Linked DNA regions of Homo sapiens. The protein of the gene in region 1 purifies or fractionates together with the protein of each later gene. This does not show direct contact. Each region holds a gene or a part of one and is shown on either strand. Other genes may lie near its edges. The genes, in order: CHD8, AP2B1, KPNA6, AP3B1, HNRNPUL1, CSNK2A2 and NPM1.

What was found.
Region 2: the proteins of CHD8 (region 1) and AP2B1 purify together in Homo sapiens (affinity purification with mass spectrometry, with the first as the bait; 2 studies listed by BioGRID). This does not show direct contact.
Region 3: the proteins of CHD8 (region 1) and KPNA6 purify together in Homo sapiens (affinity purification with mass spectrometry; 4 studies listed by BioGRID and IntAct, with this or other methods). This does not show direct contact.
Region 4: the proteins of CHD8 (region 1) and AP3B1 purify together in Homo sapiens (affinity purification with mass spectrometry; 2 studies listed by BioGRID and IntAct, with this or other methods). This does not show direct contact.
Region 5: the proteins of CHD8 (region 1) and HNRNPUL1 purify together in Homo sapiens (affinity purification with mass spectrometry; 2 studies listed by BioGRID and IntAct, with this or other methods). This does not show direct contact.
Region 6: the proteins of CHD8 (region 1) and CSNK2A2 purify together in Homo sapiens (affinity purification with mass spectrometry, with the first as the bait; 2 studies listed by BioGRID). This does not show direct contact.
Region 7: the proteins of CHD8 (region 1) and NPM1 purify together in Homo sapiens (affinity purification with mass spectrometry; 2 studies listed by BioGRID and IntAct, with this or other methods). This does not show direct contact.

Annotation. Positions count from the first base shown.
Region 1 is NC_000014.9:21,396,592-21,400,623, forward strand, and holds part of CHD8 (chromodomain-helicase-DNA-binding protein 8), read right to left. Parts: intron 4,022-4,032; coding exon 3,822-4,021; intron 3,717-3,821; coding exon 3,560-3,716; intron 3,480-3,559; coding exon 3,390-3,479; intron 3,115-3,389; coding exon 3,011-3,114; intron 1,362-3,010; coding exon 1,232-1,361; intron 811-1,231; exon of another isoform or gene 702-810; intron 1-701. UniProt on the Homo sapiens protein: ATP-dependent chromatin-remodeling factor, it slides nucleosomes along DNA; nucleosome sliding requires ATP. Acts as a transcription repressor by remodeling chromatin structure and recruiting histone H1 to target genes.
Region 2 is NC_000017.11:35,593,527-35,597,558, reverse strand, and holds part of AP2B1 (AP-2 complex subunit beta), read right to left. Parts: intron 3,552-4,032; 5' UTR 3,529-3,551; coding exon 3,492-3,528; intron 1,027-3,491; exon of another isoform or gene 429-1,026; intron 1-428. UniProt on the Homo sapiens protein: Component of the adaptor protein complex 2 (AP-2). Adaptor protein complexes function in protein transport via transport vesicles in different membrane traffic pathways.
Region 3 is NC_000001.11:32,163,148-32,167,179, reverse strand, and holds part of KPNA6 (importin subunit alpha-7), read right to left. Parts: intron 3,946-4,032; coding exon 3,867-3,945; intron 1,076-3,866; coding exon 950-1,075; intron 12-949; coding exon 1-11. UniProt on the Homo sapiens protein: Functions in nuclear protein import as an adapter protein for nuclear receptor KPNB1. Binds specifically and directly to substrates containing either a simple or bipartite NLS motif.
Region 4 is NC_000005.10:78,224,755-78,228,786, forward strand, and holds part of AP3B1 (AP-3 complex subunit beta-1), read right to left. Parts: intron 3,486-4,032; coding exon 3,390-3,485; intron 2,779-3,389; coding exon 2,618-2,778; intron 855-2,617; coding exon 788-854; intron 1-787. UniProt on the Homo sapiens protein: Subunit of non-clathrin- and clathrin-associated adaptor protein complex 3 (AP-3) that plays a role in protein sorting in the late-Golgi/trans-Golgi network (TGN) and/or endosomes.
Region 5 is NC_000019.10:41,270,340-41,274,371, reverse strand, and holds part of HNRNPUL1 (heterogeneous nuclear ribonucleoprotein U-like protein 1), read right to left. Parts: intron 2,291-4,032; coding exon 2,137-2,290; intron 391-2,136; coding exon 317-390; intron 1-316.
Region 6 is NC_000016.10:58,163,399-58,167,430, reverse strand, and holds part of CSNK2A2 (casein kinase II subunit alpha'), read left to right. Parts: intron 1-122; coding exon 123-224; intron 225-746; coding exon 747-847; intron 848-1,722; coding exon 1,723-1,871; intron 1,872-3,283; coding exon 3,284-3,360; 3' UTR 3,361-3,377; exon of another isoform or gene 3,378-4,032.
Region 7 is NC_000005.10:171,390,531-171,394,562, reverse strand, and holds part of NPM1 (nucleophosmin), read right to left. Parts: intron 3,259-4,032; coding exon 3,139-3,258; intron 2,858-3,138; coding exon 2,764-2,857; intron 1,854-2,763; coding exon 1,747-1,853; intron 1,650-1,746; coding exon 1,585-1,649; intron 1-1,584. UniProt on the Homo sapiens protein: Involved in diverse cellular processes such as ribosome biogenesis, centrosome duplication, protein chaperoning, histone assembly, cell proliferation, and regulation of tumor suppressors p53/TP53 and ARF.

The DNA.
Region 1 (4,032 bases):
TTTTTGAGATGGAGTCTTGTTCCATCACCTGGAGTGCAGCAGTGCCATCTCGGCTCACTGCAACCTCCGCCTCCTGGGTTCAAGTGTTTCTCCTGCCTCAGCCTCCCAAGTAGCTGGGATTACAGGCATGCGCCACCACTCCTGGCTAATTTTTTTTGTATTTTTAGTACAGACGGGGTTTCACCTTATTTGCCATGCTGGTCTCGAACTGATGACCTTGTGATCCACCCACTGTGGCCTCCCAAAGGGCTGGGATTACAGGCATGAGCCACAGTGCCTGGCCTAGTATTTAATTTCGTGTTTACAGGAATGGCAGGCCAGGTGCAAAACTTTGGGTCAGTCTGGTATAGCATCCAATGGAATACAAATAATTATAAGAAATTGACAATGTACCATTCGTAATTGCTTGAATTTGAAACACTTTGATCAACACAGTTCCTTTTTCTTGACTTTTATTATGTAATTCTTCCTCCTACCCAACTATTTACTTTTTATTATTTCATTTGTATGGTTCACGCTTTTTTGTTTTTATTACTGTGTTCTTCTGAGCAGACAGGTGGCATAAACGATTTGCAATGAATAAATAACCCAATTTCCTTTGAGGGTCCTACACTAGGCAAACTGAGGGTGTGATCGTCAAAGAGAAATTTCTCAGTCATGATGGAATGGGGAGGTATTCATTAAGCCAACTGTTTCACATGCCCCTCAGATCTTCATGTGAGAAGTTTTGTTAAACTCACTGGCACCCAAACCAGGGCAACACTGCCCTACCTGGTGGCTCAGTATTAGCATGGCAACTCATCATTGGGACATGTTTTCAGGCAAAATAAGTACCTTTATGTGTCAGGTACCATTGGGAGATGATAAACCAGGGCTGAAAGCGCCTAAGGCTCTTCCACAGAAGCAACGTATGAGAGCTGCTGGCTGTTATCTTTCAAGAGACCAGTTATCCTCTCAGCTACTGTAGCTGTACAGAAGAGTGTTGTAAACCAAACCAAATAGAACATCAAATAAGCCATTTACAAGTGACATTCATTTTCACCCTCAGATGTATCTTATGGCAACATGTGGTTTATGCAGTTTATGGAGTCCTTTCTGCTGGTCCTATTTTTGCTAAGGATCTATCACTTTTGAGTATAATTACAATTAAGAATCCCATTGGGTTCAGTCAAGGCTAGAGTTATTTCACGGCACAAGTTAGAGTTTTAAAAGAACAAATACTAATGCTTACCCTTCTACTATGTCAGAGAAGTTATCCAACACTCGATGTTCTGCTGCAATTGCTTTGTCATCTGGTCGGCCAGCCTTTTCTAGGAAACATAAGGCTGGGTCTGCCCTCATGGTATTATATTTCTCATAGCCTAGAAGAAAAAGGGTCATAGTTGAAGAAAATGAGATTTGTTTTGCCTTTATGCTTACTTTATATGCTGCTGGAATAATTAGAATATGTTCTATATTGCTCATAATGGAAAACAAAGTTAGAATGTTATCTTGGACAACTACTGGGTTTATTACTATATTTAACATTTTTATAGCAATTTAGAATCATGAAGAGTTTTTAACTAGTGACTGATAGCCTTAGGCTCCCAAAGTGTTGGGATTCCAGGTGTAAGCCACCATGCCTTGCCTGCAGTTTTATTTATTTTTATTTATTTATTTATTTTTTGAGATGGAGTCTCACTCTGTCGCCCAGGCTGGAGTGCAGTGGTGCGATCTTGGCTCACTGCAAGCTCTGCCTTCCAGGTTCACGCCATTCTCCTGCCTCAGCCTCCTGAGTAGCTGGGACTACAGGTGCCCACCACCACGCCCAGCTAATTTTTTATATTTTTTAGTAGAGCCGGCGTTTCACCGTGTTAGCCAGGATAGTCTCAATCTCCTGATCTGCACACCTTGGCCACCCAAAGTGCTGGGATTACAGGCATAAGCCACCATGCCCAGCACCTGCAATTTTATTTATCCCATTAAACGTCTCAAAAAAGATGTAGATTAAGTGCCATTACTTTTATTTTATAGAAAAAAAAGTATTCTTTTAAAAAAAAGACATTCTAATTCACAAAGTCACTTGGCTGAAAGTTAACGCTTACTGTTTTTAGTGCCTGGGATTTGGCATTAGGCAAAACTGCTATAAGAGTAAGGAAATATTCTTACCCCCACTGCATTTTTGTTTTGGCTAGTCAGTCTCCCTTCTTATACTCTACTTTTATTTCACTCAAAAACTGCTGCCTCATACCTATATCAGAGAGACTGCTGAACATTTAGACAAATGGGACATGTAGAAAAACAGAAGATTTTCAGCTCTTTCTCTTTAGTGAGGCAGCCAAGCTGACATAGAGATGCAGATCTCTGTAAAGACCCTCACAGGCAAAACCATCACCCTTGAGGTCCAGCCGAGTGACACCAGTGAAAATGTCAAAGCCAAGATCCACGACAAGGAGGGCATCCCACCTGACCAGCAGCATCTGATATTTGTGAACAAACAGTTGGAGGATGGCCGTACTCTTTCAGACTGTAACATCCAGAAAGAGTCCACCCTGCAGGTGGTGCTTTGCCTCTGAGGTGACATTATTGAGCCTTCCCTCTGCCTACTCACCCAGAAATACAACTGCGACAAGATGATCTGCTGCAATTGTTATGCTAGTGCACATCCAGAGGAAAGTCATATAAATTAAGTGTGATTATTATTAACAATAGTTGGGGTATATTACCTGCCCTGATTCATGGGACCCTAACTTACCATAGCATACAGTGCGGTAACACACTGCTAACAGTGATTAGAGAACAGATGGGAGGCTCCCTACCTTGAGATTTACCTATCCATCTGGCCCTTCTTGAACATCTATTTATAGGAACTAACTGCTCTGCTCTGGATATTTAAGAACTACTTTCCTACTCAAATTTATTGAAGATCAATCAGATAACTGAGTTATTTCTCAGGAGCATTTTGCTAAATGTTCCATCCGTGAACATAAATCTTCAGTCGGAAAGGAGTAGAATAGGAGAAGATACGTACCATGTTTAAAGACTCCAATGAGCAGCGACTTGTCAGCCTCACTGTCCCACCAAGTTGTTGGAACCTCCAGTTGATCCACTACTGGGAACCATATGTCAATCTCACTAAAGGTATAAGAGGGCAGAGTCAGCACAGAAATGCAGGAAATTAAAGTGAGAATCCTTGCAAAGGTTATTATAGGTATCTTCCTGTATCCATTAATTTAAATACTCATGCATCTACCCTATTTCCTCCCACTAGTGTCAAGTATAAGATTAAAGACCTGATATATAGATTTAAATTATCAGGTATCCCAAAGATAGCATAAAATGAAATAAGCAAACCAATCTTCCCTCAAATAAGGTAGGGCATAAATCAAAAAAATATAGCAGAATTTTACCTGGCAATCGCACCCCCTAACACCTTTTCTGCTTGGTCTCCAATAACCTCCTGCCTCAGGTAGTATAGCATTCGTACCCGCAACAGTACCCTAGAAAGGACAGAGGAAGAGCTGGCTCAGTAACACTGTAGAAGTTTGAGGTGGAAAATGTCTGCTAATTCTATGCTTACTTGTTACACTGATGTTTCAAGTGCTTCTTATAACTTTCATCTTGGAACAAAGTGTCAGGGTTATATTTCCGGATCCAATCTGCCTTATGGATATCAAAAGTGCTTTGTGACTTTACTTTTTTTCCTTTGCGTCCACGAGGCACAGGGATAGATAGACCTGGGAAAGGGGAGACATCAAAGACTTGGATTGAGAAAAACCCTTGGACCTGAAAAGGATTAGATTAACCTATAGAAAAACATAAAGTAAAGAGTTGATAATTACCTGAATGATTCTGCAATTCTTTTGTCTTGCCATTTTCAGCTGGGCTAATCAAGTCCCAGATGAAGCCTTTAATATTTTCATCCCCACGGTAGTGTAGAAGACAGTACACGAGAATGGCCCGACAAATGGTCTCCACATCTCGTTCAGTCATACGTCGCTTGAAGCGTCCATGAGATAAAATATCTCGCCATCGTCCCCAACTAAAAAACAG
Region 2 (4,032 bases), on another chromosome or scaffold:
TACTTTAATAAATCAGTGGGCTTTAAGGCCCTTGCTATTCAATCAAACAAGAATAATCTTGAAACCAAGAATGGTACACAATGGAGTCATTTCCAAAGGTACAATCTTGAATGACTGCTTAGGCTCCGCACTGTAAACTGTCAGGGACTGTAACCACTATTTTAAGGCCTGGTCTCCAGGCTCACCTATCTGCAAGAAGCCGGAACCAAAATAAAAAAGAAAGTAACAACCCTAATATTGTTTAAAAGAAACGGAAAAAAAACACTAAGTCCATGAAAAAGAGGTTGACTACTCCCATCTCAACTTTCCATCTACATCCTCCAGCTCATCTACCATACTGCCTCAAAAGACTTTCCTCCACCTTCAAGACTGTTCCTGTCGTTCCTTTCAACCAGATCTCATTTACCAGCATAGAAACAGTGGGGACAGTCTCCGCTTCCGGAGGTCGCTACTGCTGCCTCAGTGGCCCCGGAGCGGGGGCGCCCAGGGGTCCTTCGCCCCCGGCCACGGCCCCCACAACGGGGCTTCGCCGCCACCTGTGTCCGAGCTGGACCGTGCAGGCGCCAGGCTCCTCTCCGAAAGGCGCACGAGACAGCTTTCTTCTCCTGGTTCCACAATGGCCTCCTGGCATAGGGCATCGGGGTTATCTCCTTCATGCAGAGTGACATGGATCACGAAGCAGCATATGGCTTCTTCCTGCTGGGCGGCCTGTGTGCGGTGTGGGGCAGCGCCTGCGGGGCCTGGCAGCGCTGCGGGGGCCCATGCAGCTGACGCTAGGGGGCGCAGCTGCGGGCGCTGTACTCGCCACCAGCCCGCTCTGGGTGTGCGCCGCCGTGGGCTTCTACACCGGGCAGCTGGAGCTGGACGTGAAGCTGGTGCTCGAGGGCGACGGGGCGGCCTCCGCGGAAGGCCCTGATGAGGCAGGCTGGCCGCCACCCGAGTGAGCGACATGGCCGCCGGGCCTGGCAGGCGCGGGATGACGGCGCCCGAGGACTGGGACATTAAAACCTGACCTCCCCTCCTCCAAAAAAAAAAAAAAGAAAGAAATAGTGGGGACAAACACTACGTGATTTGCCTGAAACCATTATGTGGAAAGGATGAAATTAGTAAGACACAGAAGTAGAGCACTTTTTCGTTTCAATATCCATGGCCAATAAGGCAAAAAAATTGTTCCAAAATTTCTATTTAATCAACAGCTACAAAAGTAGCATAGCAAGAAAAGCTGGGCCCTTTAAAGAGTCATTCTTCATAGGACTCTTCACCATGTCCCATCCTGCCAAATCCAGCTCTTAGAGTTCCTCTCATTCACTTCCGGGAACAGTGAAGGACAAACGGCGGGGTTTCAGAAAGTCTGAATTGTGAACAGCAGCAGGTGTTATAGAATCAAAGCAGGATGTAACAGAAATTATTCCAATTCCAAAAGCATAAATTTAAAGAATATGTTTCAGTGGCAGTTCTGGTGGGTGTTGCAGGAAGTACAGGGAACACAATCTATCAATTTTTTTTAAGTATGATGTTTATTAGCAGTGATTCAATCTGCAGTCTCAAACTTTTACAAATGCCTGAATTAAAAAAAGGTCACCAGGACACTTTTCAAGAGTAGGTTTGAAGAATTAGGAGAGTTTTAAAATTATAACTATTTAATTGTAATTGTATCCCTTTATATAATTATAGACATTTTGTTCGTCAAAGCACACAAAATGCTAACAGAAGAAGAAATAAACATATTTCCAAAAGAAAATCAGAAAAAGCTGAGACTGAATGACAAGTGGCTAATGGCTTTTGTGAGGTGTAAGTAATAAAAATAAGGAGGAAAAAGTTGGGCAGGACCAAAGAGGGGTACTAAAAGAGGCAAAGTCATATATTCTACAACTTTATTAAATTCCTATATTTTCTCCCTCCTCCTCCCCCCAATCAAATCTACCAAGCACTGTTAGCAGCTAGCAGTAGTTCTCAATCATGGCTGCACATTAAAATAATCTGGGGAGCTTTCTTTTTAATTTTTTTCTTTTGAGACAGGGTCTCTCTCTGTTGCCTAGGCTGGGGTACAGCGGCACAATCACGACTCACTGCAGCCTCAACCTCCTGCACTCAAGTGATCCTCCCACCTCAGCCTCCCAAATAGCTGGGACTACAGGTGTGCACCACCGTACAGGGCTAATTTTTAAATTTTTTTTCATAGAGATAGGGTCTTACCATGTTGCCCAGGCTGGTCTCAAACTCCTGCACTCAAACAATCCTCCTGTCTCAGCCTCCCAATGTGCTGGGATTACAGGCATAAGCCACCATGCCTGGCCACCTGGAGAACCTTTAAAATCCTCACACCCAGACCATATCCAGGACAACTGAAATCAGGCTGAGGTTGAGACCCAGGCATCAGTATTATTTCAAAGTTCCCTGGCTGAGCAATTCTGATGTGTTGCCAAGACTGAAAGCTACAGACAACAAACTGACATAATTAAGCAACTCACTGCAACAAGAGAAAAAGAAGAATGGTAGTTGGCGCCATGTCTGGAATACTTTGGTAAATGTAAGGACTCCTGAACACAAAAGCACAGAATTCTGATCCTAAGCAACAAATAAAGCAAGCTAAGCTACAGGCACAATAAGCTGAGATGGGCTAAAATGTTTGTCTTTGATGGGAAGACCCTCCACATTTCTAGAAATGATCTATTTTATTTAGGAACAATTTTACAAAAGATGAAGGGTTGGACTTTCCCCAGAAGAATCCTTTGTTCCTAGACCCAAACTCATAGGTAAAAACAAGCATTATATTACTGATAACAAAGATGATGAGAGTAATAAGTGCAAAGTCCCTCAAGTAATTCCGTCTATGACCTAAAAACCATAGATGGCTCTAGAGATTCCGTTTTAAATATACATCTAGACGAAGAACATGGTAGATGTATATGGACGGATATGAAAATAACTCATTTCTATTCATTGTTTTGCAAGATTGCTTTTTCATTAAAGATAAAAAAATTTTAAATCATATGTATTAATATATGCACTCATATGCAGAGAAAAAGACTTGAGGATATACACCAAGTTCCCTTGGGAATAGGAACAGGAAGGGAGAACTTTCATTTTTACCTTTTACATACATATCTGTATTGCTTTAATTGTATTCTTTGTTATAAAATGTTTATTTCCAAGTAAAAATTATTTAATAAAAGGGAAAAAGTATGCTGCTTCTTTTGTCCTCCTCACACTTAACCAATCTCCAATGGATCATCTCAAACAGCAAAGAGGAGTCTCTTTCACTAAACAGAACCTTCAAGTCATAATAATGTGCATCACAGCCCTCTCTTTTAAAACCTACTCTTTAATAACTTGCTTGAATACATTCATCTATAGAAGTAGTAGATGTCCAGTGAGATTGTCAGCTACATGTATGTCTGAAGGAAGAGGTCAGCAGCATTCTGCCTGGGGCAATCTTACACTACAACTTTTGAAAATTTCAAAAGATTTGATTGTATTCTCATACTTACCTTTTTTATTGGTTGTGAAATACTTGGAGTCAGTCATGACTTTGGATCTTTAATGTGCACCTATAGCAAGAGAAAAGAATTCCTTCATTCAGGTTATAGATATCCAACAAGGCATCCAATTAATTTTAAGAACATCCAATTAATTTTAGGAACACTTATATTTAAGAATTTCTAAAAATGAGTATCATCTTCCTTTATCACCACCGTTGATGGTTCAAGAAAAACTAAGAATGTAACTCCTCAAGCTAATGGGGCAAAAATCTAAAGGCCAAATGCAACTGGGTAAAAGTATGAACCTATTATGGCTTTGTGATTTTATCCACAGTAACTCCTCAAAGCTTTCAAGAGCTAAAGCTGGACCTTTTTATAAATATATCTGCAATTACTTTCCATTCAGGAAAATCTGGTAACTTCCTTGCCTCAAGCTGGAATCACTCCAAAACATATATTCTGAAGCAGTGTAAGGTCAAAAGAAAAAACAATTTTGCCGATCTATGACATGAAACTTTCAATAAAAAGAATCTCTTTCAGAAAAAAAAAA
Region 3 (4,032 bases), on another chromosome or scaffold:
TCTATAACAGCCTGAGAGAGAATTGAGAGGAGGCAGATGGAAGGAGAAAGTCATTTCAGCATGATAAATAAATCTAGTCCCCAAATCAGCTGAGACTTAGACATCTTCCCCATTCTGGGAGTTTTCTTTTGTTCTTCCTATATAGGTGACAGGCTACTACAGAAGAACCCAGTTTTGGTTACACAGCTTCTTTGACCAATAGTACACACTGACTCCAATTTATTTATTTATTTATTTATTTTCTGAGACAGTCTTGCTCTGTCACCCAGGCTGGAGTGCAGTGGCGCGATCTCGGCTCACTGCAAGCTCCACCTACCAGGTTCACGCCATTCTCCTGCCTCAGCCTCCCGACTAGCTGTGACTACAGGCGCCTGCCACCACGCCCGGCTAATTTTTCTTTTTTTTTGTATTTTTAGAAGAGACATGGTTTCACCACGTTAGCCAGGATGGTCTTGATCTCCTGACCTTGTGATCCGCCCACCTCAGCCTCCCAAAGTGCTGGGATTACAAGCATGAGCCACCATGCCCAGCCCCTCTTTTTTTTTTTTTTTTTTTGAGACGGAGTCTCGCTCTGTTGCCCAGGCTGGAGTGCAGTGGCGTGATCTCAGCTCACTGCAACCTTTGCCTCTCGGGTTCAAGCAATTCTCCTGCCTCAGCCTCCCGAATAGCTGAGATTACAGGCGTCCGCCACCACACCCATCTAATTTTTGTATTTTTAGTACAGATGGGGTTTCACCATGTTGGCCAGGATGGTCTCAAACTCCTGACCTCATGATCTGCCCACCTCGGCCTCCCAAAGTGCTGGGACTACAGGCGTGAGCCACCGTGCCTGGCCAATTGACTCCTATTTTTAAAGGGAAACAAATTCTTTCTTCTGAAAGCAAATATTCCAACAACCTCCCAAGTTCCTATGACTTCCCATGCCCCTTGACTTCCCTGCCTGTTTTACCTGTATTTGAGCCCTGTTGCCAGCAGTAATATTTGAAATAGTCCAGCAAGCTTCCTTCCGGATTGACTCCTTGGGACTGCTCAACAAGTGGAGAAGGCAAGGTAGGGCTGAACAGTTAAGAATGACCTAGAACACCAAAAGCACAGGAAACAAAAGAAAAATTAAACTGTTTTTAATTTTTTTTATGTTTTTTTGTTGTTGTTGTTGTTGTTGTTGTTTTTGTTTTTTTTTTTGAGACAGAGTCTCGCTCTGACGCCCAGGCTGGAGTGCAATGGCACAATCTCGGCTCACTGCAACCTCCGCCTCCCAGGTTCAAGTGATTCTCCAGCCTCAGCCTCCCAAGACGCTTGGATTACAGACGCCTACCACCACGCCCGGAAAATTTTTCTATTTTTAGTAGAGATGGGGTTTCATCATGTTGGCCAGGCTGGTCTCATGCTCCTGACCTCAGGTGATCTGCCTGCCTCGGCCTCCCAAAGTGTTGGGATTACAGGTGTGAGCCACTGTGCCCGGCTTCATTTTTTTTCTTTAAATAGGGTCTCACTTTGTTGCCTAGGCTGGAGTGCAGTGGCATGATCATGGCTTACTGCAGCCTTGACCTCCCAGTCTCAAGCAATCCTTCTACTTCAGCCTCCTGAGTAGCTGGGGACTCCTGAGTAGCAGGGTGCCACCGCACTCTGCTAATTAAAAAACATTTTTTTTTTTTGTAGAGACAGGGTCTTCCCATGTTGCAGGGCTGGTCTCAAACTTCTGGGCTCAAGTGATCCTCCTGCCTCAGCCTCCCAAAGTGCTGGAATTACAGGCATGAGCCACTGCACCTGGCCCAGGTAAACTGGACTTAATCAAAATGAAAAACTGTTGTGCATCAAGACATTGGAGTAAGCTGGGCACAGTGGTATGCACCTGCAGTCCCAGCTACTCAGGAGGCTGAGGCAGTAGGATCACCTCAGCACAGGAGTTCAAGGCCAGCTGGGGCAACATAGTGAGACCCTCTAAAAAAAATTAAAAAAGAAAAGAAAGTTGGTCTGGGTGAGGTGGCTTCATGCCTGTAATCCCAGCACTTTGAGAAGCCAAGGTGGGAGGATTGCTTAAGCCCAGTAGTTCAAGAGTAGCCTGGGCAACATGGTAAAACCCTGTCTCTCCAAAAAAAAACAAATTCAAAAAATTAGCTAGGCATGATGGTGCATGCCTGTAGTCCCAGCTACTTGGGAGGCTGAGGTGGAAGGACTGCTTTGAGCTCAGGAGGCAGAGGTTGCAGTGAGCCGAGATGGCATCATTGCACTCTAGCCTGGGTGACAAAGACAGACTCTGTCTCAATTTTAAAAAATTAAATAAGTTAAAAGTTTTTTTTTTAAAGACACCAAAGTTAAAAGATAAAACCACAGAACAAGAGAAAATATTTGCAAAACATGTGTCTGATAAGAGATTAATATCCAGAACATATGAAGAACTCCTAAAATTGAACAACCAGAAAACTCAACAACCCAATTAAAACATGAGCAAAAGACTTGAATAGACATGTGTCCAAAAAAAAAAAAAAAATACACAGATGGCCAATAAGCATATGAAAAGATGCTCAACATTACCAATCATTAGAAAAATGCAAATCAAAACCACAATGAAATATCACTTCACACCCATTAGGGTGGGTATTATCAAAAAAAAAACAAAAAACAAAAAACGGAAAATAACAACTGTTGGCAAGGCTGTGGGGAAACTGGAACATGCTGCATTGTTGGTGGGAATGTAAGATGGCATAGCAGCTGTGCAGAACAGTATGGTGTCCCCTCAAAAAAATTAGGCATAAAATTAGAACATGATCCAGCAATTCCACTCTGGGTATATACCGGGGACTTGAACAAATATTTGTACACCAATGTTCATAGCAGCATTATTCACAATAGCCAAAAGGTGGAAACAACCCAAATGTCTATTGATGGATAAATAAAATATGGTATATACATACAGTGGAATATCATTCAGCCTTTCAAAGGAGTTCTGATGCATGCTACAACATGAACGAATTTTAAAGATACTAGGCTAAGTGAAATAAACCAGACGAGAAAGAATAAACACTGTATGATTCCACTTACATGAGGTACTTAGAGCACTCAAACTCACAGATACAGAAAATAGAATGGTGGTTACTAGGCACTAGGGGAAGGGAGAATGGGGAGTTACTGTTTAATGTGTACGGTTTCAGTTTGAGATGATAAAAAATTTCTGTAGCTGGCTAGTGGCAATAACGGAAAAACAATGTGAATGTACTTTATGCCAATGGTTAAAATGGTAAATTTTATGTTGTATTTTAAAGTACATGCATATACATATACAAAGTAACCCAGAAAATGAGCATGTGGGTTTGAGTGTTTGAGTGACACTACTCACCTGTTAAGAAACCTGTCCAGAATCCCACAGAATTATGCTCGCTACTCAAAACCCAAAGAATACCCAAATCTCTAGCCTTTGAGCAGGGGAACTTTGTTTACTATGCCTTCACCAGAAGGGTTATTTACAAAAGATTATTCCAAGGTCCATGATATCCATGAGACCTTAAAGATCTAGGAAGCAGGGGTGGAGTTCCATAGCTTTCAGTATCTCAAAGGGACCATGACTCAAACTTAACTAACTCACAATGTCCCAGGTGGTAAGTCCAGTTATTCCACTTAGTTTTCCTTCACCCATTAGACGATGATTTGTTCCCAATTTATGTAAGAAAAGAAGGAACCAAGTTTCCCATGACTGTTTAGAGAATAACAGAGCTGGAACTTTTCACTCAAGCCCACACTTACTTCCTTAGACCATAGTGCCTCCCATCAGGACCACAGCCCTTTGCAGGAAAGGCTTTTGTCCACTGGCAGCTCTCCACAAGCTCTTCCATAGCTGGTCTAAGATCCTGCACCCTCCTCTTTCTTACCTGGGTCTGGATGTCATCCCCAGTGACGATGTTACCCACGGCTCTCAGGGCAGGAGAAGCCACTTTGTAATCATTGTGCCTACAGAGGAGGGAGATCTGATCAGAAGGCCAGCACACCATTTTCGGCCCTGCTGATTCTCTCTCTTTAGTCTGAGCCTGGAGAAGC
Region 4 (4,032 bases), on another chromosome or scaffold:
GATAAAGAGGAACATTTTACAATGACAAAAGGAAGATTAAAAAAATTATAAACATACATGCACCAAACATCCAATCTCCTAAATAGATGAAGCAAACACTAACAGAATTAAAGAGACTTCAATACCCTGTTTTCAATAATGAATAGAACAAGTAGGCATAAGATCAGCAAAGTAGAAGATTTGAACAACACTAAAAAACAGATATCTATAGAACACTCCACTCAACAACAGCAGAATACACATTCTAATCAAATGTTTATTGAACATTATCCAGGATAGATCAAATGCTAAGCCATAAACCAATAGTTACAGCTACACAGGGCTACTGCCTACTGTATTAGATAGCTGCCATGCATAGATAGTACATACTCCCTGATGATAGCATCCTAAGATGAGCTGGAATCCTTTTCCTCAGTAGTTTTGAGAAATATAAAGTGGGTACAAAAGCCCCATCTAAGATACTAGTACACTAGTAACTCACATCCCCCATAGGTCACCTCTATTCCTTGATCTTACCATGTTAACCACTTAGCCACAGGTTAAAGATTTTTTTCTCAACTTGCCTTTTTTCAGATTCTGATGAAGAAACACATAACGATCTAAAACTCCAAATGCAGTCTTTCTCATTACATGAAAATTTTTGTTCTTTAAAAATAGTCCTGTGTGCCATTAATATTTATACCATTTTGAAATCAATAAATACAACTATATAAAATATATAATGGTAAATGATACTATGTAAATAAAGTACATTTTTATGTCAAAGACGTAAAAAGACATTACTTACTGTGCTTTTATCTTTCAGAAGTTTTTCAATTACTTCAATTAACATTTCCTTCTGCTCTGGATCAAGGCTAAAAAATACAAAAATAACATATTAATTTTTCCCTTTAATTCTAGCTTTACATGATGCTCACCAATTCAAGGATGTTGAGAAATTTTTAAAGAGGGAAAGGAGAGCAAGAATTATAAGTTAGAAATAAAGAAAAACAAATAAAATGGGATGGTTTTTCTCATGAATGTGTCCTCATCTTTCCCTCTAATATTGTTCATATTAACTAAACCAGATATCAATGGTTTAGTTAAGATAGTACTGAAAGAACAAGTTCACTTCTAAAAGAGTTGGAAAACTTCAAGAAAGCGACTGTAAGTAGATAAACCACAAACTCTTTTCAACTGGGAGGAAAAAAATAACTAGATAGCAGTCATTATTTTACTATGCATACATACTTCCCAAAAACAAATATGGAGAATTTCCAAATAAGAATTTTATATCATACTAGTTCACTGATAGAGACATGCATTATAAAATCTGCCAACTAAAACTAGGAAAAATAAGAGGTAGTAATAAGCTTAAAACATTTGAGATAGAATACTAACAGACTATAAGCTCAAGGCAAGGAGAGGCAAGCATTGAGGCTGGAATATACTGGTGCCCAATGATAGAAGGACTTTTAAGCCGTTAGAGTGAGCATGGATCTTATCCCATAAGTTTCTAAGGAGAAAAGGTGAGTGAGAAGCATGATAAAACCTTGTCTGGCAGTTAACATAGGAATATGAGGTTTCACTTTCTACAAACATACACATTTATTACTAAACATTATAATTATCTGGACAAACTTTTTAATTCTTTCAAATTTCAGCTTAAGTCTTCCTTCTCAAAGCAGTATTTCACTACCAATCCCATCTCATTACATCTTTACTTTCCGGTAACAAAATATGATCATCTCTGGTCCCTGTCCTATCAAAGACATTGCTAGTGTACCTTTGTATATACATATATATCAAGTGCTAATATCTTATTCATTATAGATTGCCTTTAATTATTTGGTATGTCTTTGATCTTCTTCCTCAAATACATGATATGCTATTCATAATTAAGTGCCACATCCTCTACTGTTTTCATACATCTAAATACACATAGCACAATACTGTGAATACAACACCAGAAACAGAAGAGAGTCTCAAAAAGCTTGAGGAATAAATGATAGCTGAAAATAATACCAAATTGTTGTAGACAATTCTATTTGGACAGTAAATTTTCCACAGAGATCAGGGCATTGTATAATATTGCATAACATTTCTAAAATATCACACAGATATGGTATAGCACACTATATTTCAAATCACTACACTTTTTAAAATTACTTAATAAAATAGCTCTGGAAAAGAATTAGACAACGAAGGGAGCAGCAGGAACAAAGATGGAAGAAAGGAAAACACATATAAGTGAGTTGAGAGGATCAGACACTTAAGATTCTACCCTAAACAGGAAAAAAAAATCTCAATTTTCTAATAATACAAGCATATGTGTACATGAGATAGACTATATAAATGAGAATTCAAATTCTGATTATTCTTAAGTTATAAAATCTATAAATTATCACAGGCTCTAACAGCCTCACAAATAAAAACCTGCATAGGGTCTCTATAGCCAAAACGAAATTAAAGATGTGTAAGGAACATTTGCAGCAGGGGGAAATACCATCATACAGTCACTGGATTTACTTAGTGTAAGAGCAGCCTACCTAAAAGAGCGAATAAAACAAGCCTCTGTGGTCTATAACATTCCATGTAACATCAGAGATCTTTGGTATATTGTTAACAATGCACCTACCTGTATAATTTTTGTATTGCATGGGCTGCATTCTTCCTAACATATGGTGATAAGTCAGCAGAAGCTTCCTTAATAGCAAGCATCATGATAGGTACAATAATTGGCACTCTAATACTTGACAGAACTCTCAAAGCGCTTGCACGAATTAGTTGGTTTGGGTCCTAAAAATAGTGCAAAAATATTCACCAAAATTTCAACTTTACAATATTTTAAACATATCTTTCAGACACAGTTAATAGGTGCTTAAAGGGTGTAATATGACAATAGCAAAAGAAAGCTACTTAATTTAAAATGAACAATTAGTATATAGGAATGGGAAAAAAAGACAGACATAAATGTTTACTTCTTTAATAATGTTTTAAAGAAAAGTAATAGTTATAATTCTAGTTGGTCATTTATTACTAAATATGCTGGGTTTTTATACTTTCATAATAATAAAATGCTGCAGGTCATCAATTTCATGTTTAAAAATGTCTTATAACCCCTTTTGCGTACTTTCAACAACTAGTATAATGATAAACAGCTCTTTGAAGCATGAAAATAATTATATTGAATATAAACAAACATACAGAAGCTGTAACATATACAGCAAGGTTTCAGTTGGTTGTATAAATTATTTTCTAAGTGTACTGAGTAGGCACTATAGGAGGCTTTTAACTCTTTCAAGACACTACTGTGCTATTTAGTGGATTATCGCTCCACTTCTTTAACTGACACACTTTCAACTCTGCAGAAACCTTGTAGCTATTTGCCTACTCACTCCATTATTTACCTTCAGAGCTCGCTGAAAAGTGCTTATGGACAGGAGTGCAAGATCCTGCTGTTCTTCAGCATATCGAACCAGGTAAACATATACCAACTTCTTGATCTGTTAAAAAAAAATCATTTATTCATAACCAGAGTGAAAATTTAAAACTCAGTATTTGCTATACCAAAATCCATGCTCAATTCTTCTCAAGTAAATAACTGAATCTGGTCACATGTTAGATTGTAAAATAAAAATAATATTTTGTGGGATAATAAGTACAACAGGAAAAGCTTTTAAAGTAAGCATTTTAATAGTCCAGTTCACAATAGCAATAGCCTATCAAAGTGTCCCTTCCTCTTGAAGGGAATAAAAAATCCCTGAGCAGATCTCATATAAGAATATTAACTAAATTGTAAAAATATTTTCAAAATGAGGGATAAAAATAAAAGAAAGAAGCCAGGCATGGCGTACATGCTTGTAGTCCCAGCTACACAGGAGGCTGAGGCAGGAGGATCACTTGAGCCCAGGAGTTAGAGGCTATCCTGGGCAACACAGAGAGACCCTACCTCTTTAAAAAATAATAAGAGAAAGAATTTGGGCCCAGGCCACTAACTATATGTTATGGGAACTTGTTTCCTCATCTGTTAAAAGAGTCCAGAGCCCTAAC
Region 5 (4,032 bases), on another chromosome or scaffold:
TCAGGGTTTTCCAGATTGCTCCTATATCCACTGAGGAGTCTCCCTGAAAATCCTCTGAGGTTAGTACAGCAGATTTACTCCTTCCTGAAGGGAAGCTCAGAGAAGTAGAATGACTTGCCCAGGGTCCCACTGCTAGAGTTGGGAGTAGGTCTTTTGCCTCCAAACCAGTACTCTTGCTCCAGAGCTAAGCCGTGTCTCACATGTGGACTAACAATGTCTTTGGACGGTGCCCAGCAGGGATTCTGGTGAAGGTCAAGACCACAATTTCCCCATACTGACTGTAAGGCAGAATTAGATGCACACTCCAAAGACTTACAGGTGTCAATAGCAACAAGGGTATCATCAAAGTCATCTTCATCCTCTTCAGCAGGAGGCTGAGGAGAGCGGCCCCTGTATTAGAAACAGGGGTTAAGTCATACAAGAACAATGGATGAGCACAAAGGAAAGAAAATGAATGTTCTGCTGTAATCTATGAGTGGCCTCCAGACTGCTTCCTGAATCTCCATTTCCTTCCACAGAGGTGGGCAAAAGAACTCTGAAACCCTACATCCTTGCAAGGAGAGCAATGACCGTCAACTCCTACGGTGGAGACAGGGATTGAAGAAGGCATGCTCTGCTGAAGGGGGGCATCAGAATCATTTAGGGAATTTTTTCACTCTTTTTTTACACCCAAAGATTCTGATCCATACCCTCTGCATGTTGACAACCACTTCCACACTGATCTCTGTTACTGTTTGGAGGCTGTGGTATCCCAAAAGGGTGCTGGCCAGGAAGGGGAATGTGCAAGAGCCTATATAAATCCCAATAATTACTATCTATCCATGTACCAGGCTTCTTAAAATCCTACATCTGTAAGAATTTGAGATGACCCATTTTTTTCAGTGTCCTAAATTATAAACGATATTCATTTTCCTACCAAAACGCTAAAAAAGGGACTTAACACTGTTGGTTTCTGCTGTACAGGAACGAGGAAGAAGGGTAGAAAGGTAGAATCTAACACTCAGGGTCCTGCCTGGACAGTCTGGGTGGTCGCAGTGCACTGCATGCACAGATGGGGAGCCCATGCCCATTTGGCTGCTGACTCTCCCAGCAGCAGGCTTCCCTCTGGTGGAGGGCCCCTCTGGCCTCGCCAGGCCAGGGCTAACATGGATGAGCTGTGCTCATCACATGTTAAGTCCATTCTAGGAAACTTTCCCTGCCAGCCCAGGATCAGAGCGAGTGTTCTTCCTTTGCTCTCCATCAGTAAGTAGCTTCCAGGCTTCTGCTCTGTGGGAGGCAGTGGAAGAACCCCATATGAGGTGGGATCCATGTCCTAACTTAAATCATAGCCTGTGAGATCCAGGCCCTGTCTCAGACAGTAACAAGCTAGTTAGAAGGTGGACTCCGCCAGATAGGAAATAGAATGTCAGATGACTAGTCCAGATGAGTACAGTGGCCATTCCTAGTTTTCATAATTGCAAAAGGCTTCAGACAGGAACTGAAGGAAGGAAGGAGGGAAGGGAAGGACTTGGTCTGGAGGGAAAGGAGGGAAGGGCTTGTTAGGGAAGGGAAATGACCAAAGCAGAGGCTGCTCCCTCTTCTGAACTCCTGAAACTCACCTGCATCCTGACTACTCACCTCAGAGGTTGTGGCTTACTAGTGTATGTGTCTGAGTCCCCACACTGGAACAACAGAAGGCAAAACCCACTGTCCATCTGTATGTTGCTAGTGTCCAGCCCAAGAGTGGGCACTTCGTGACAGCACTGTGAGAACTGACTGAATGAGTGGATGAATGGGAAGAGGATGTGTATTTGGGAGTAGTGTTAGGAAACAGATATTTCTTTCATTACGGGTATCAAGCAGCTGACTGCAGGGGCAGTAAGGCAAAGGACAGAACAGGCAGGCTGGCATCTCACGCGTGAAAGTCTAAGATATTTAGAAGTTACCCTGCAGGTAAGAAGGGAGGAACTGGGGGAAGGACCAAAAGTTTAGGAAAGCTGAATCTGGTAGCAAGTACGGGAAGGGACAGGAAGAGTGTGAAAGCAGAGGGAATCTTTACTCAGCCCCTCTAGGTTAGTGCAAATGTCCCCAGCAAGCACGAGGCTATGGATATAGAAACCTACCAGAGCAAGGGTGACTGCTGCCTCATACACCCACCTCCTATCCTCTCGGTGCTCAAAGTACCCCCGTCCCCGGTTTTCTTCATAAGGCCTCTTTCGACTCTGGAATTGCTGCCTGTCTGGCTTGAGTTGAGAAGCTTCAGGCGGGAGGAAGCTGGTGGGTGCTCCTTGCTTCATCTCTGTCTTCATTTCTATTGTCAAGACAAATTCAGATGGTCAAGACACTCGCAAGCTCCCCAGCTATCACTTTTCTGGTCCCTTTTCCCTTGAGAGATGTGAGCAGGATCCTCACTACAGTGATGAAGGGCTGGGCACAGGCAGCTTGCTGAGTTCAACAGAAGCCTGCTGAGCCAGCCAAGAAGGCCATACTGGAGAACAGGGTTAGGATCTGAGATACCATGACCCTAAATTCTCCAATTTCTCTTCCCAAAGAACCTCTCTGCCTTAGTTCTTACAAAGCTTCTTCAGTCTGGCAAGGGAGGGGGAGAGGATGAATTCAACAGGGTACTGTGGTCCTGCAGCTAACTCTACGGGCTTTAGTTACCCTACCAAAAGAGGCCAGAATCACTCCGGTTAAGCCATCCCATAGGTGCAATAACCTCTTTAAGTCATACCATTAACAGAAAGTCAGGATGGGATACCGTGCTGTGGACCACGGGTAAGTCCTAGTCTCAGGCAGACTCCAGGAATCAGTGCCTAACCAAGAGCAAACCACAGATGTAGGCTACCTTCATTTCTCCCACAGCATTAATCCCTGATGCTGAAGCTCATTCACATCTACTCATTTCTGCATTCAACCCCAGACCATTTTGGATCACTCCCCAGCTTCGGCATGTGGACCACATCTCTCAGAAAAGTCTCCTGGTTCTCTAGGGCTGGGATGGTGCTCAGCCATCCTGAAGAGAGCTTCCCTGGTTCCCAGCAATAGGTTGGGCTCACACAGGGCTCCTGATGAATGTCTGTGGATAACGGCACAGAAAATATTCTCCTGTGGCTGAATGATCCTACAAGTCTCACAGAGCCTGACACAAATCTGCGGTTTAACCTACATTCAGTAAAGTTCTGAGCCACCCACAAGAAATGTCTGGGGATTTAACTTTGTGGATGAACCAGAATGGCGTTAGACAAAATCAACCAGATACACTAAGAAAAGGCACTGGGAGGCCACAACACAGTAAAAGCAGCACAAAACTGGGGGTCAGTCCGGGCTCCATCAGTTCTCAATAGTGGGACCCTGCTTTCCAAATAGTAAGGCACAAATGATAAGGAATGCTGCTTATTAACCAAGAGGACTAGCCTGGGAGCAAGTATGCTAGGTTGTAGCCCCAGCTCTGCCATCGGACAAGCCAACTCCTCAATCTATAAAATGGGGAGGAGAGGCCAGGCGCAGTGGCTTACACCTGTAATCCCAGCACTCTGGGAGGCCGAGGCAGGCAGATCATGAGGTCAGGAGATTGAGACCATCCTGGCCAACATGGTGAAACCCCACATCTACTAAAAACACACAAAAAATTAGCTGGGTGTGGTGGCACGCCCGTAGTCCCAACTACTTAGGAGGCTGAGGCAGGAGAATCACTTGAACCTGGGAGGCAGAGGTTGCAGTGAGCCAAGATCACACCATTGTACTCCAGCCTGGGCAACAGAGCGAGACTCCATCTCAAAAAAAAAAAAAAAAAAAAGGGAAGGGAGAGTTGGCATCATGGGGAACTTTGTTCTGTAAAGACATATACTTAACATGATTGGGAAATCCTAAGTTTAAACGATACAACACAAGGTTTTTTGTCTATTTTTTTATTAAAAAAAATATTTTCAGCAACACCAGCCCAAGAAGACACAAGGTTTTTAAATTTAATTAAAAAAAAAATTTTTTTGGAGACAGAGGCTTACTGTTGCCCAGGCTGGAATGCAGTGCTGCCATCATGGCTCATGGAGC
Region 6 (4,032 bases), on another chromosome or scaffold:
TTAAATAAATTATCTATGGCCATACCACCCTGAACACGCCCAATCTCGTCTAAAAAAGAAATTTATATCAGAAAAATGGATTTCTAATACCCTTGGCTAATGCGTTGTCCTTATTGCCTCAGATGTATGATTATAGCTTGGACATGTGGAGTTTGGGCTGTATGTTAGCAAGCATGATCTTTCGAAGGGAACCATTCTTCCATGGACAGGACAACTATGACCAGGTGAGCAAATGCTTTCTGGTTCTTATTTATTTGGGGGTGAATGCCAAAAAAATAGCATCCTTAGATAAGAATACTATCCTTGAGCCACTAAGTATCACTCAGTGTCTGCATATGAGCTTTTCTTCAAGATAAAGATCGCACAGAATTTTGTGTTTACCAGGTCCGCAGAAGTAGAGGCAGATAATGCCATCTATGCCAAACTTCCAAAGTGAATCTGTGAAGAAGTCAGGCACCTCCTTGTCTAATAAAACTAGATTTTAGTCATTAGATTGTGATGCCCTGTACTGGTCCACCTCTAGAAGATTATTATCGTAAGTTGTATTATTTTAAAGGCCGTTTGGAAATTTGCATTCATGTGAACTTCTTGTCCTTGGGTCTGTCTGCCTGCCCTGGACCTGGGTTTGTATCTCGTTCCTAGAGGTTTAGTGGTGTGGAAGTCTTCTGATTCCTTGGTGCAGTGTCCTCACGGGCTCATGGTGTGTTCTGTGCTCAGTGATTTGGTCAGTTTGTTTTGTGTTTCAGCTTGTTCGCATTGCCAAGGTTCTGGGTACAGAAGAACTGTATGGGTATCTGAAGAAGTATCACATAGACCTAGATCCACACTTCAACGATATCCTGGGACAGTAAGTAAGAGAGAGAGAGAGAGTGCTTTACCTTACCCCGTTTCAGAAGTGGAAAGGTTAGCCAAAATCACTTTCTTTTCCCATTCTGATTATAGTAAAATGGAAGTAGCCCTCTTTTTTCCTATGCATATTTTCTTTTAACTTATTGAGATATTTGGACTTTATGTCTTTTAATCATTTTACTTCTCTGAGAGATAACCTATTAATAGAAAAGGTAAAACAAAAATCATAATGTTATAGAAAAAAGTTTTCTGGTACAGCAAAAGCTTATTTTTAATGGCCAAACTTGGAGAGCAATGATTCTTTGAATAAGAGACTTAGTTTGTTTTTTATTATATTTTATTTTATTTACTTCATATCTCTTCAAGGTGGACTTACAATTTCTTCTTGTTCTCTGTAATGGATTTTCTATACAATAGCAAATTTTAAAGCACATTGAGTTTTCAGGTACATTGCAATAATGTTGAGAAGTAAACATTTTGTTAACAGTTTTCAAACAGTATTTTATGGAACCTCCCTGTTTCTGAGGCTAGCCCTGGGAAATATATCTGCTGACCAATAAAAATTGCCCACTCTTCTGCATGCCACCCAGAATTGACTAAAAGTCTACAGCATAAAAAATAATCTAGAAAGGTTCCACATATTCTAAATGAGATATAGAAGTTTTACCTAGTTGTATTTTTCTAATCACAGAGCACCATTGTGTTTCAGGATGCTATGCTGTAACTATGGGGCCGTAGGGCAGGCACCAGTTAGAGATTTAACAAGCTTGTAATCAGTACATTATTCTGAGATTTTGTTGGCTTTAGCCCTAGTAGATAAGGATTCTTGTTGAATTTAGTCTCTGGTTACTAATGCTTCATTTTTCTTCTCAGACATTCACGGAAACGCTGGGAAAACTTTATCCATAGTGAGAACAGACACCTTGTCAGCCCTGAGGCCCTAGATCTTCTGGACAAACTTCTGCGATACGACCATCAACAGAGACTGACTGCCAAAGAGGCCATGGAGCACCCATACTTCTGTGAGTCTCCAGGGACTGTGTTCAGGGAGTAATTCAGTCAAGAGAACAAATCTTCCACTCTTTGTCTTTGAGACCAGTCAGGAGAATTCTAGGGTATTTGGATTGGATTATTCCTAGAATTTGGCCTCATTTATCGTAGATGATTGAGACAACTTTGCAGATCCGTTTCTTGATCACCAAAGGTGTTTGCTTATTCACTGAATGTATCTCCCCGGAGTTCAAGCTGTTTGACTACTCCCTGTTACCCTGAGTTAATAGATCGCAAGTTTCTAAAATTTCTTTTTAAACATACATATATTTGTGTGGAAACCTAATTGAAGATTATTTCTCCCCTCAGAAAACTAGTAATTAGTTAAAAGTAGTAAGATAACTATTGTATGTTTTGAAAGAAGGAGATGAACAGATGGATGGACGAAAGGAATTTGAGGAAAGGGAAGTAAGTGTGGAGAGGCCTCACTGAAATCTTGACTGAACTGCTCACTTAGAAGTGTGTGTGGATTCACTTTGCGTGTTTGCTTATTCTTCTGCATGTGTATGGTTCTTTCCTCTGATAACGTGTGTTTCAAATAAACTTCCTCCTATTATCAGTCTCCTTCCTGGGGAGCAGGGAGGTTGAGAGACTTACCTCAGTCGCTTTCTGAATCAAGAGGGAAACGTTCACCCCTTAAAGTCGTTGTCTCTGGCTTAACAAACATGCTGTCTTTCCCTCTCCTTTGATTTCCTCTGGAGATGAACTAAATTCTTGCCTGAAGAATGTGTCGCTGTAGTCTTGAGCCTGTGGCCCATATGCATAAGGGAGACCGCAAATGGAAAAGCCTTCAGCCTTCTAGACCTCAGCCCCAGGAAACTCAGATGTCCCCGCCCCAGTGTCTGGCACAGAAAGCTGTTTTTACCCGAGTTAGATCAAATTAGGAATACTGATGTTTATGACATGTCATTAATGATCTTTCTGCTTTTCTGAATATATGTCATACTTCAATTTAAAAAATTTCAAACTACGGTTGCTTAAAATGGATAGGTCTTCTGATGGCTCTTTTTACTCACCTTTCCTTTGAAGTGCTTGTTATTCTACATGCTTTGAAGAAATTAGGGGTTAGAGATGATATTAATATTGAAAGAAAATAAATGTAGAAATTTGAACAGTGGGAAATTAGAGTTTCTATGCCTCTTAGCATTGAGTCTGTACTCCGAGGAAGGGTAAGAGTTGACTGCAATAACAATTTCCCTGATCATTTTTCAGTGTTTGGTTTTTATATGGCTGGAATTCCGTGATTTCCGTCTCTCCTGTTGCCCCCCTGACCCTGGCTTGCCCATCAGTCTGTCTCTCTTTCCGTTGAAAGGGTGGGTTTGCCATGGGCTTCTCTCAGCACTCACCACCCTGATTGCCTGACTTTCCTCCTGCTTTCTTGCAGACCCTGTGGTGAAGGAGCAGTCCCAGCCTTGTGCAGACAATGCTGTGCTTTCCAGTGGTCTCACGGCAGCACGATGAAGACTGGAAAGCGACGGGTAATGCGGCATTGATGCTTGCCAATAAAACCAACCAACCAAACACAAACCTTGAAGGAAAACTACAGTGTGATAAAAAGAAATTCTTATCATTCCTTCTAAATGCACAGAAGAGTAAAGACCTAAAAGTCTGTCAAAAAGCAAGAAAGAAACTCCCCAGTGCTAGTCTCCAGGGAGCTGTCACTGTGGCAGCATGGGGATGCACCTAGTTCAGGATCTGAAGGAGCTCTGCCTTTGGAATGCATGGGAGATAGAGACTCGGAGTTGTTGTACATTTACCTTTGTTTAACAGGGCACCACTGTTGAATTAACCCATTCAGTCAACAAGCTCTGAATGTCTGACTTCCTATCTATTCCATTGTGGTCTGGGTTTCCTTTGGTGAAATTCAGGCTCAAGTCTTAGCGAAATGTCAGCAGTCTATACTGACACACCAGCCTCATTTACAAAAAGGAGATATTAAAACAGTGACAGTATTTTTTTTTTAAGCTCTTTACAAATCCACGTTTTATGTATTTTTTAATGACATGAGCTCTCCAGGAAATGTACCTCATCCCCGCAGTTTTCCTCCAAGTGGATTCATTTGGGAGCAAACTGCAGTCACTTTCACAAGAGTCCTCTTTGATGTCAGGAGGGATCACGAAACCTTGCAATGCC
Region 7 (4,032 bases), on another chromosome or scaffold:
TCATAGTCTGAGAGGGGAGGATAGCTTGTGCCCAGAGATTCAAGTCCAGTCTGAGTAGCATGGTAAAACACCATCTCAAGAAAAAAAGTGGCCGGGCACGGTGGCTCATGCCTGTAATCCCAGCACTTTGGGAGGATGAGGTGACCAGATCGCCCGAGGTTAGGAGTTTGAGAATAGCCTAGCCAACGTGGTGAAACCCCATGTCTATTAAAAATACAAAAATTTGGCTGGGCGCAGTGGTTCACATCTGCAATCCCAGCACTTTGGGAGACCGAGGCAGGTAGATCACGAGGTTAGGAGTTCAAGACCAGCCGGACCAACATACTGAAACCCTGTCTCTACTAAATACAAAAATTAGCAGGGCATGGTGCCCCGAGCCTGCAGTCCCAGCTACCCGGGAGGCTGAGGCAGGACAATCGCTTGAACCCAGGAGGCAGAGGTTGTGGTGAGCCGAGATGGCGCCACCGCACTCCAGCCTGAGCAACTGGAGACTCCATCTCAAAAAAAAAAAAAAAAAAAAAGAAAACAAAAACAGCAACAGTCAAATACTACCTTTAAGTTTGCGTTCATTTATAAGTTTGACATGCAAGTACTTTGAATTTTTATTTTTCTTTTGAGATTGGGTCTTGCTATTTTGACCGGGCTGGCCTCAAGAGATCCTCTCATCTTGGCTGGGTGTTAGGATTACGGGTGTGAACCACTGCGCCTGGTCATACTTTGAATTTTTAAGCTTTCGGCTCTTTCGGCCTTTTTCCTGTTTTCTGCCTTCATCGTCATGCTCAAAGATTTTGAAGAACCACCAGCTTAAAACCTAAACTCCCAATTTGATCTTTCATGCAGGTTCTCTTTTAAAGTGCATGTTCTTATATTTGTTTTCAATAAATGCATATGGACCAACCTCAGAACTGAAGGACAAAGCTGAGAGCCAAATCAAAGTATTCAATGCATTACTGGTACTGGCACACATAAGACCAATTATAAACAGTACTTTATACCAGTGTGCGTATTAACTGTTTGTAACAATAGTTTGATCTAGTTTAATATAAAGTCATCAAATATTGTTTCCAACCATATTTTAAATCCCAAGAAAATCTTAATATCCCTTTTAGAATCTTATTTTTGTCAATAAATATCTACATAAAACCATAAGACAAAATCCTTTTAGGGAATAACAAACCTTGAGTAACAACTTGTAAAATGAATATAGAGCTATTTAATCATATTTTCTTTCAACCCAATCTCATTAACTGCTCACCATAAAACATACCAGGCTTGATGGGTATAACACATCCACTAAATCTTCAGAACAAAGGGACATAATCAAACTTCACAAACACTATAGTCTACCCTTCTGAAGAGTCACAAGTCACAGCATTGTAAAGGCTCACAGACCCAATATCCTTTCAACTCAGCTCATTTAACTTAAACTGACAACAGATGACCACCTGCCCTTTTATTATAAACTATTACATAGGATGGCTTTTTGTAAATGACTTTTATAAAACCCTCATGCATATAACTATGTCAAATTCCTTTTTTTGTCAAGATTCCGGAAGTATATCAAGTTTCTAAAATCATACTTACTCTTCATCATCATCCTCTTCATCATCATCGTCATCATCTTCATCAGCAGCAAGTTTTACTTTTTTCTTTTAAAAGAAAAGATACGTACTCATGAACAAGAGCTGTTCTATCACCAAACTAAAAGCTATAATACAAAACCTATAATAAAATTGCCATCTCTACCTGTGGAACCTTGCTACCACCTCCAGGGGCAGACCGCTTTCCAGATATACTTAAGAGTTTCACATCCTCCTCCTCTTCATCTTCTGACTCTGCATCTTCCTCCACAGCTAAAATACAATTTATTAGACATTATAAAACTCAAGCAGCAAGAAGTCAGAAAAAAAAAGAACACTGATAGTAAATACTCTAAAAACTGAGACTTCTATTCTATTTAAAAAAAAAAAAAAAAAGAGCACATGGGAAAAGGAACTTTTTAACAAAAGTATTTTGAGGCCTAATGTTCACTGCCAGGTTTTAAATGCAAGAAGCCTGGGGAGGGTGGCTCATGCCTGTAATCTCACTTTGGGGAGGCCAAGGCGGACCACTTGAGGCCAAGAGTCCAATCTGGGCAACATACTGAGACCCCATCTGCACATATACAAAAAAAATTAGCCAGGCGTGGAGTGTGCCTGTAGTTCTAGCTATTCCAGAGGCTGAGGTGAACCCAGTAGCAGTTCGAGGATATAGCAAGCTATGATCACATCACTGCACTCCAGCCGTTATAATGAGACTGTCTTTATTAAAAAATAATTTTTAGGCCAGGCACAGTGGCTGACACGTGTAATACTAGCACTTTGAGAGGCCAGGGCGTGCAGATCACGTTAAGGCCAGGAGTTCAAGATCGGCCTGGCCAACATCACGAAACCCCTTCTCTACTATAACTATGAAACGCAACTGGACTTGGTGGTGCACGTCTGTGGCCCCAGCTACTGGGGAGGCTGAGACAGGAGGATCGCTTGAATCCCGGAGAGGTTCCAGTGAGCCAAGATCGTGCCACTGTACTCTAGCCTGGGTGACAGCAAGATTTCCTCTCCCCCCCGCCCCAAAAATTTATTTGTCCTCTCCAATTTCTAGACTCACATTGGAACCTATTAAAAAGACAGTAGTACTATACCCATGCTTTAAGTCCAAACTGGGAACCAAGCAACTGCACTAAAGAGGACAAACTAAGTAGTATAATATATAAAAATAACATACCTACTAAGTGCTGTCCACTAATATGCACTGGCCCTGAACCACACTTCAACCTTAAGACCACTGGTGGTGTTATTTCAAAGCCCCCAAGGGAAACCTAGAAGGGAGAAATTTTTCATCACTAAACATGTGAAGAAAATGAACAATAAACATTACAGGCAAACACATAAGCCAAATCAACAAACCAGTGAACCTGTTTTTCCACCTCTGATAAAAGTAGCAGCAGAAGCCCCCATGTTCAAGAGTTGACCATCGAACTCCAGTGACAGAAGATAAAGAACCACTTTCTATCTCCTTGGCACAACTAAATGACACCAAACCTACCTTAAAACAGAATTAAACCTTGACACAACATCCAAAGTATGTAAGTGCCCTTACCGTTGGCTGTACAGACATTTTCAAAGTTGCCAGTGTTACTTTAATTGGACTGCCTTCGTAATTCATTGCCTCTGCTTCAACAATGTGCAACTCATCCTTTGCACCAGCCCCTAAACTGACCTGTGAACAAAAAAAAAATACTACTTCAACTTTTGAGTTCCACCTATTTTACACCCCCCCACTAAATGTTATATGCAGCCATGCGTCACTTAACCACAGGGCTAGGTTCTGAGAAATGTGTTGTTAGACAATTTCATCTTTGTACAATCATAAGAATGTGCTTATACAAACCTAGATGGTATAGCCTACTACACACACCTAGGCTACAAACCTGTACAGTGTTACTGTACTGAATACTGTAAGCAACCGAAACACAGTATTTGTGCATCTAAGCATAGGAAAGGGCCGGGCTTGGTGGCTCATGCCTGTAATCCCAACACTTAGGGAGGCTGAGGCGGGCAGATCATGAGGTCAGGAGTTTGAGACCAGCCTGGACAACATGGTAACAACCTCGTCTCTACTAAAAACACAAAAATTAGCCAGGTGTGGTGGCACATGCCTGTAATCCCAGCTACTCGGGAGGGTGAGGCAGGGAATTACTTGAACTCGGAAATCAGAGGTTGCAGTGAGCCGAGATTACACCACTGCACTCCAGCCTGGGTGACAGAGCGAGACTGCCTCCAAAGAAAAAAAAAAACAGGAAAGGTATATTAAAAATAAGGTATAATAATCTTATGGGACCACCATTGTATATGCGATCCATCTGTTGACCCAGCAGTTGCAATGAGGCACATGACTGTGATTTTTTTAAAAAACAAGTATAAACCTCTCACTATTACCCTGGAAAACAAATTTGTGCAATGTTGTCCTCAGGTTTTGTGATCTTGGCAAATC